3 separate regions of the Homo sapiens genome follow, and all the other regions are linked to region 3. The links come from fine-mapping of genetic effects on gene expression. A gene starts in region 3. Each other region holds a variant in brackets. All regions are shown on one strand. Distances are from middle to middle. Region 1 overlaps ST3GAL3 (ST3 beta-galactoside alpha-2,3-sialyltransferase 3). Region 2 overlaps ST3GAL3 (ST3 beta-galactoside alpha-2,3-sialyltransferase 3). Region 3 holds the start of ATP6V0B (ATPase H+ transporting V0 subunit b).

What was found. PIP is the estimated chance that this variant, and not a neighbour inherited with it, causes the effect.
Region 1: its variant is the best candidate, but not a certain one, in a credible set for the expression of ATP6V0B in whole blood (TOPMed, PIP 0.84).
Region 2: its variant is the best candidate, but not a certain one, in a credible set for the expression of ATP6V0B in atrial appendage (GTEx, PIP 0.84).

The regions. Positions count from the first base shown.
Region 1 is chr1:43,897,412-43,899,911 of GRCh38, forward strand. ST3GAL3 (ST3 beta-galactoside alpha-2,3-sialyltransferase 3) reads left to right here. Exons shown (of 12, transcript NM_006279.5): 7 at 824-887; 8 at 1,757-1,852; 9 at 2,130-2,316. Among named protein-coding and RNA genes, the nearest start is that of ARTN, 35 kb to the right of the region's middle. RefSeq lists an enhancer at 2,272-2,500. The variant A/G (reference allele first, on the strand shown) is at 1,065.
Region 2 is chr1:43,717,931-43,720,770 of GRCh38, forward strand. The region is part of intron 1 of ST3GAL3 (ST3 beta-galactoside alpha-2,3-sialyltransferase 3); the gene reads left to right. ST3GAL3-AS1 (ST3GAL3 antisense RNA 1) reads right to left here. Exons shown (of 4, transcript NR_125986.1): 2 at 2,541-2,621; 3 at 1,064-1,196. Among named protein-coding and RNA genes, the nearest start is that of ST3GAL3-AS1, 8.0 kb to the right of the region's middle. The variant T/C (reference allele first, on the strand shown) is at 1,446.
Region 3 is chr1:43,973,778-43,976,277 of GRCh38, forward strand. It overlaps ATP6V0B (ATPase H+ transporting V0 subunit b), which reads left to right and starts at 1,183. Exons shown (of 8, transcript NM_004047.5): 1 at 1,183-1,330; 2 at 2,023-2,071; 3 at 2,313-2,396. The coding sequence starts at 1,264. It overlaps LOC124904167 (a long non-coding RNA gene), which reads right to left and starts at 1,088. Exons shown (of 2, transcript XR_007066053.1): 1 at 666-1,088; 2 at 1-110. RefSeq lists enhancers at 336-1,169, 752-871, 922-971, 1,170-2,002 and silencers at 1,222-1,271, 1,672-1,721.

The DNA.
Region 1 (2,500 bases), 76 kb before region 3:
ATGATTTATATAAGGTCACAGAGCACAGCCAGTATTTGACTCCAAAGCCAATACCCTTGCTATTCACTATACATCATATTATAGTGCTCTCATGATACCAGAGTTTGGAAGAGCAGTCCTTATTGCCAAAGCCAGAGAGAGGCCAAGGAGATGAGGTCTAAATAGTGGGCACAGGTCTGAGAGCACAGAAGTCATGGGGGTCTTTGCTGAATGGAGTGCAGGTGGGCAGAGCCAGGCTCAGGGAGTAAAGAGGTGAGGAGGTAAAGACAGCCTGGCAAAGAGCAGGATTCAGGATTGGCAATGTGAGAGGGAGGAAGTGAGGGAAAGGTGATGTCAGATAATGAGGCACGTGGTGAGCTCTTCAGTTGCTGGGTGTCTCCTCATTTGTTTCCTGGTATCTGCTGGGTGGGAGCACAGAGATAAGTACAAGGTGGTCTCTAGCTCTGAGCAGGTACTCCCATTCCAGGGAGACTGCGTGCGCCAGCTTCCAGGGAAGGCCCTGGCCTGGGAATGCATGTCCTGGGGCCTGACTACAGAGCCTCAGAAAACCAGATGAGCCTCCCAGAAGCCTGGGAGAGAAGCTGCGTGCCAGTGTTAGGGACGGGCTCCCGGCAGTGATATGCCTGTCTGTTTCCTGCCATCACCTCCTTTCTCAGGAAGAAAGTCAGGGCAGTGGCCCAATACATCCTTGTGTCCAGAGCTCTCTCCACTTCCACTTTCACTCTAGCCCCTAGGGACTTGTGTCTTCCAGTAGGATTATCAGTAAACATTTTATAGAAAGGTAAGTGACCCTGTAACAGAAACCTCTCTCCTCTGTCTGCAGACAATCTGATCAAAGCCATCTTGTCAGTCACCAAAGAGTACCGCCTGACCCCTGCCTTGGACAGGTGAGCCACACACTGTGCAGCCTCCTACCCACCGCTGCCTGGTGGTGTGCAGAGGTGTTGAGGCCCAGCTGGCCTTCCCTGGACATGGGCAGTTTCTCCAGCACATCCACACATGCACATACAGTACACACACAGGGTGGGTGGAGCAGGTAAGTGGAACCACTCCACCTGACTTGC[A/G]CCCCCACGGGCTGTCAGCACTTGGCAGGACATCCCAGTCCTCAGATACCAGAGGTTTGAGGGTAAGAACTGAACACACTGGGGCTGGGACTAGCCCAGCAATGGGACTGAGGGCCTGGGTGGCGGGGGCAGGTGAAGGGGGCAAGGCTTAAGTCCAGAAGGCAGTGACAGCTCCCAAACCAACAGACCCTAGAGCAGGAAGCCCCAGGGTCAGGGATGGGAGAAGCAAGATGGGTAAGCTCTCTAGTGGCTGCTGGGAGCCTTGAGTCCTAGAGCCTCCTGTCCCGTTCCCCTTTTCTTGCTTTCCTGGTATAGCCCCAAGCTCGGCCCACTTTTCCCTCTCCCCTGAAGCCTGCCTAAACACCACTACCCCTTGGGGAACCTTTACCCTAGAATGTCATCTTACCAAAGCTCCCTCCTCACCACCCACGCCTGGCACCCAAGCCTTTCCATGGCCCTGTTTTCCTGGGGAAGTGTCAGGGCCTAGATAGAGATGCTGGAGAGTCTCAGGGCCCAGCTACCCATTGTATGGTTCAGGCCTTCTCTCAGAAATGCTGCCAGAAGCCCATTGGTCTTCTTCCTCTATCCCAGCCTGGTCCTGGACAAGGGCGTGGGGTCAAGGGCCAAAGGAGCAGGGAAAGAGACCTGGTGGGCAGCTCTCTGTACAGAGGTCTCCGCCTCTCTCCCCTCAGCCTCCGCTGCCGCCGCTGCATCATCGTGGGCAATGGAGGCGTTCTTGCCAACAAGTCTCTGGGGTCACGAATTGACGACTATGACATTGTGGTGAGGTGAGCTCCCCAAAATGGCACCTCGGGTGAGTGTCGTGGCCCCAACCCTTAGTCCTGAGCCCATTGAGAACTGTCTGTCTGGCTAGTTGGGCTGGAGGTCAACGGAAGCCTCAAGAACTCTGGGTTGGAGGGCTTTGGAACAGACAACTAGCGGGGGCACCTGGGGAGAATAGGTCCAGGTGACCTGGACTCCCTATTCTCCATGCCTGGGATAGTCTGGGGTCATGGTGCCTTCCCAAACACAGGCCCAGGCTCTGAGTGGGCCTGCTCTCTGTAGACTGAATTCAGCACCAGTGAAAGGCTTTGAGAAGGACGTGGGCAGCAAAACGACACTGCGCATCACCTACCCCGAGGGCGCCATGCAGCGGCCTGAGCAGTACGAGCGCGATTCTCTCTTTGTCCTCGCCGGCTTCAAGTGGCAGGACTTTAAGTGGTTGAAATACATCGTCTACAAGGAGAGAGTGGTAAGCTCTCCTGGCACCAGCTTCTTCCCCTCTTGCCCTGGGCTTCCGCAACTCCTAAGCAATCCCGCCCCTTGAATGCAGCAAAGAACGAGTAAGAACCTTCAAAGGAAACATTAATGACCCAAAGCCGAAATCACCCAATGGCAACCAGGGGGCAAAGAGGTCAGGAGATTGCCCGGGTTAC
Region 2 (2,840 bases), 260 kb before region 3:
GGCATGACCTTGGCTTACTGCAACCTCCACCTCCCGGGTTCAAGCGATTCTCCTGCCTCAGCCTCCCGAGTAGCTGGGGTTACAGGCATGTGCCACCACACCCGGCTAATTTTTGTATTTTTAGTAGAGACAGGGTTTCTCCATGTTGATCAGGCTGGTCTTGAACTCTTGACCTCAGGTGATCTGCCTGCCTTGGCCTCCCAAAGTGTTGGGATTAGAGGCGTGAACCACCACGCCCGGCTCTATCATTAAATCTTTTTTTTTTTTTTTTTTTTTTGAGGCAGAGTCTTGCTCTGTCGCCCAGGCTGGAGTGCAGTGGCGCGATCTTGGCTCACTGCAAGCTATCCCTCCCTGGTTCACGCCATTCTCCTGCCTCAGCCTCCCGAGTAGCTGGGACTATAGGCGCCCGCCACCATGCCCAGCTAATTTTTTGTATTTTTAGTAGAGATGGGGTTTCACTGTGTTAGCCAGGATGGTCTCGATCTCCCGATCTCATGATCCGCCCGCCTCGGCCTCTCAAAGTGCTGGGATTACAGGCGTGAGCCACTGCGCCTGTCTATCATTAAATCTTAATATGCCATCTTGCTTGAGTTTTTTTTTATTTTTTAAATAAAGAGAACATTACATTTTTACTGAAAGCCTTCCTAATGTGTTTTTCCCTTCTTCTCCCTCCTTCAACAGAAAAAAGCCACTGTTTGAGTTAAAGGTGTTTAAAGTTCCCATACGTGTTTTTATCCTTCTGCTACATCTTTTTTTTTTTTTTTTTTTTTTTTTTAGGATGGAATCTTACTCTGTCACCCAGCCTGGAGTGCAGTGGAGTGATCTTGACTCACTGCAACCTCCACCTCCCAGGTTCACATGATTCTCCTGCCTCAGCCTCCCAAGTAGCTGAGATTACAGGGGCCCACCACCACGCTTGGTTAATTTTTGTATTTTTAGTAGAGACAAGGTTTCACCATGTTGGCCAGGCTGGTCTCAAACCCCTGACATCAGGTGATCTGCCTGCCTTGGCCTCCCAAAGTGTTGGGATTACAGGCGTGAGCCACCACACCAGGCCTCTTACCTGCTTCTAAAGGGAGTACCTGGCCAGTGACAAAGTATTTTTCAGCTTTACTCTTCTGTTCTCTGTTTTTAAAACCATTGTAGATCATTTGATTTCTACTCAGGAAGTCACTGACTACTCATCTTGCAGGAGTCTGGATCCAATTAAAAGAGAGAAATCACATGGTAATTTGAACAGATAAGGTTTAATGTAAGAATTACTTAACTATTACAGAGAATTGGCGTAATGCTAGATTGGCTAATAAGAAGTAAAGAAATAAGCACATAGAAAGAGGGTTAACATCATCAGCCTTCAGGGGAGTGTAGATCAAAACTACCATGAGATGCTACCTCACACTCTATGGTGGCTGGAATCAAAACAGCAGATAAGAATAAGCGGTGGC[T/C]TGGGGCCAGGCACGGTGGCTCATGCTTGTAATACTAGCACTTTGGGAGGCCGAGATGAGCGGATTGCCTGAGCTCAGGAGTTCGAGACCAGCCTGGGCAACATGTTGAAACCTCGTCTCTGCTAAAATACAAAAACAAATCAGGCGGGTGTGGTGGCGGGTGCCTGTAATCCCAGCTACATGGGAGGCCGAGGCACGAGAATTGCTTGAACCTGGGAGGCTGAGGTTGCAGTGAGCTAAGACCATGCCACTGCACTCCAGCCTGGGCAACAAAGTGAAACTCTGTCTCAAAAAAAAAAGAATAAGCGGTGGCTTGGGAGGCTGAGGTGGGCGGATCACTTGAGGTCAGGAGTTGGAGACCAGCCTGGCCAACATGGCGAAAGCCCGTCTCTACTAAAAATACAAAAATTAGCCGGGTATGGTGGCATATGCCTGTAATCCCAGCTACTCTGGAGGGTGAGGCAGGAGAATCACTTGAAACTGAGAGGCGGAGGTTTCAGTGAGCCGAGATCATGCCACTGCATTCCAGCCTGAGCAACAGAGCAAGACTCTGTCTCAGAAAAAAAAAAAAAAAAAAAAAAAAAAAAAGAATAAGCAGTGGCTCACACCTATAATCCCACCAGTTTGGGATTTGAAGTGGGAGGATTACTTGAGCCCAGGAGTTAGAGACCATCCTGTGCAACACAGTGAGACCCCATCTTTACAAAAAATAGAATAATTGGCTAGGCATGTAGTCCCAGCTGCTGAGGAAGCTGAAGCAGGAAGATCGCTTGAGCCTAGGAGGTTGCAGCTGCACTGAGCCAAGGTCATGACACTGCACTCCAGCCTGGACCGCAGAGTGATACCCTGTCTCTTAAAGAAAAAAAGAATAAGTGTTAGAGCTGGTGATGTGGAGAAATTGGAATGCTCATTCACTGCTGTTGGGAATGTAAAATGTGTAGCCACTTTGGGAAACACGCTGTCATTTCTTCAAGCAGTTAAACATAGAATTACCATACAACCAGTAGATGTCATTCTAGGTGTCCTAGTCCATTTTGTGTTACTATAACAATAGCTAAGACTGGATAATTTATAAAAAACAGATTTATTTCTTACAGTTTTGGAGGCTGGGTAGTCCAAGATCAAGGGGCTGGCATGTGGTGAGGGCCTCCTTGCTGTATCATCTCATGGCAGGACCTGGAAGGGCAAGAGAGAGTGAGGGAGAGAGAGAAAGAGACTGAACTCACAGCCTCAAGCCCTTTTATAATTGGCATTAATCCGTTCATGAGGGTGGAGCCCTCATGACCTAAATACCTCTCATTAGGCTTCACCTCCCAGCACTGTTGTATTGGAGATTAAGTTTCCAACACATGCTTTTTTGGGGGACATGTTCAAACCACAGCTCTAGTTACATAC
Region 3 (2,500 bases):
TTGAGAATCTGGTCACAGTGGCATTGTCGAGGGTATTGAAGGTGAACAAAGGAGATGTGGTCCCTGCCCTCAGGGAATGCCTAGTCTAATGGTGGAGGCAGAGCTGTAAGCTAACAAGGTAACCCAGACAAAGTGGGCATCAGTCATGTGTTCTACAAATATGTACTGAGGACACACTCTGTGCCAGGTACTGGAAATACAGCAGTGAGCGACACAAAAGCCATGGTGCTTCCACTCTTCCAGGGGAGTTGGACAAATAAAATACTTAGTATGCCAAATGGTGATCAGTAAGTACCGTGAGAAATGTAAAGCTGGGAAGCAGAGGAGCGTTTAAGTGGGGTGGAATATTAAACAGAATGGTCAGAGAAGGCCTTTTCAAGAAGGTGAGCAAAAACTGAAAGGAAGTTACAGGATGAGCCGCATGTATAGTTAGGAGAAGCAGAGAGAGCAAGTGCAAGGGCAGTGAGGTCGCGGTATGGTTGGCACGTTCAAAGAAATAGCAAGGAGGGCAGTGCAGCCAGAGGAGGGAGTTAGTGGGGGAATATTAGAAGGTGAAGTCAGCTGAGGGGCGTGGGGAGCCTAGCAGGCTATTGTGAGAACTTTGGCTTTTCTCCTGAATGAAATGGGAGCCATCAGGGCATTTCGACAGGGTAGTGACATCTTACTGAAGCTTAATAAGCATCACCAGGACATCGCGGGAGCCCAGCAAACGCGCTTCCCTGCCACTGGGTTAGGGAAGGCTTGCCGGAAGGACGATTTCGGAGGACAGCAGGTGTTAGCCAGGCAGCGGAGCGAGCGCCAACAGGCGCACTGGGGCGGAGAGACGCCGTGAGCAAGGTGAGGCAGAGGGCACGCGCGGCGCCACCCGCCACAGGCTAGGACGCACGGCTGCCAGAGAGGACGCCTTAGGGGCCCGCGAGCAGGCTCGGGAATAAAACAGGGCTGGCAGGGCGAGGTGGAGAGACTCGAGAAGGACCGGCCAGATGTCGAAGTTCCTAGAGAGGAGGGCGCCCAAGCCTCCGCCGAGACGCGTGACTACAACTACCACAATCCCCAGCGCCTGCGGTTCCAGCGTCGCCTTGCTCTAGACGGGCGGCGGCGCTGCGCGGGGAACCGGCGTGGGGTCACGTGGTACCGGCGCATCACGTGGGCGAGTTAGGTGACGCTGCGGGGCGGGCGGACAGACTGCGGGACGGACGGTGGACGCTGGGACGCGTTTGTAGCTCCGGCCCCGCCGTTCCGACCCCCGCCGCCGTCGCCGCCATGACGGGGCTAGCACTGCTCTACTCCGGGGTCTTCGTGGCCTTCTGGGCCTGCGCGCTGGCCGTGGGTGAGGCCGGGTCCTGGCGGGCGGGAGCAGCATCGCGGCCGAGCTGGCCGGGTCGGAACTCGGCGGGGAAGTGGCCTGCGGGGAATACTGGCCCCCCGCGCGCTCTGCACCCGAGGCTCTGGGGACTTGCGCCTGCGAGGGCCTCTGACTCCGACAAAGGAGACCCGGATTTCCAGCTGCTTGAGGAGGGGTGCGGGCGGGTAGGGGCCGCGAGGGCAGCACTCCCCCGTCCTGCCACTATCGCTGTCTCCCCTCGCTCCCACGTCTCACTGCTGTCCCCCCTTTCTTGCTCCTGACCGGCCCGCTCGGTCACAAGCCGGCTGCTCCGGTTCCTCTTTTCCCAGTCGCTTTGCCCTCCCCCACCCACAGCTTGTTGGGTAAACAGCGGAACGGACTGGGCCGGCGGGATCTGGCTGGAGCGCTTGCTCCCTCGGTCCCGCCTCGGATTCGGGCTTGCGGGTGGCGACCCTGCCTGCGCAGGTGCTTGGTCTGGGAGGTGGTTTTAGCGAGGGAATGGCAGAAAATGGAGGCCTAAGCAGAGGAATCTGTCTACACAGCTGTACTGTCACCTGGGGGCAGCCTGAGGACGCCCCTTCAGGGAGGTGGCCCTTCAGCTCGGCAGCTACTTTAGGTTGAAGAACTTCTCTCTACCGAGCAGCCCGTAACCCCCTTTTTCTCCCTCACTGCTGCAGGAGTCTGCTACACCATTTTTGATTTGGGCTTCCGCTTTGATGTGGCATGGTAAGGGAGGGCAGGGGGAGGATTCCCCTTGAAGCTTCTTCCCTGCAGCCTCTCTTCTTTTCTCTGGTCTGAGTCCCTCCCCCACACCACTGCCTGCCTGGGACATGGACCTTTGGGAAATACGCGGTCAGTTGTTGCCTGTAGAACTGGTGGTGGGGTTGAAGGGGGTTTGAGGGGTTAAGATTTTGTGCTCCGCTTCCCTGCTAGAGCTGAACTGCTTTCTTCTCTGCTTCCACAACAGGTTCCTGACGGAGACTTCGCCCTTCATGTGGTCCAACCTGGGCATTGGCCTAGCTATCTCCCTGTCTGTGGTTGGGGCAGCCTGGTGAGTATTGGGGTGGTGGGACTGGGGGCAGGGGCTGAGTCATGGCAGGTGGTGTCACTGGGGTCTTAGGCATGCTGAGGGCAGTGACAGCTTGGGCTCTGCTC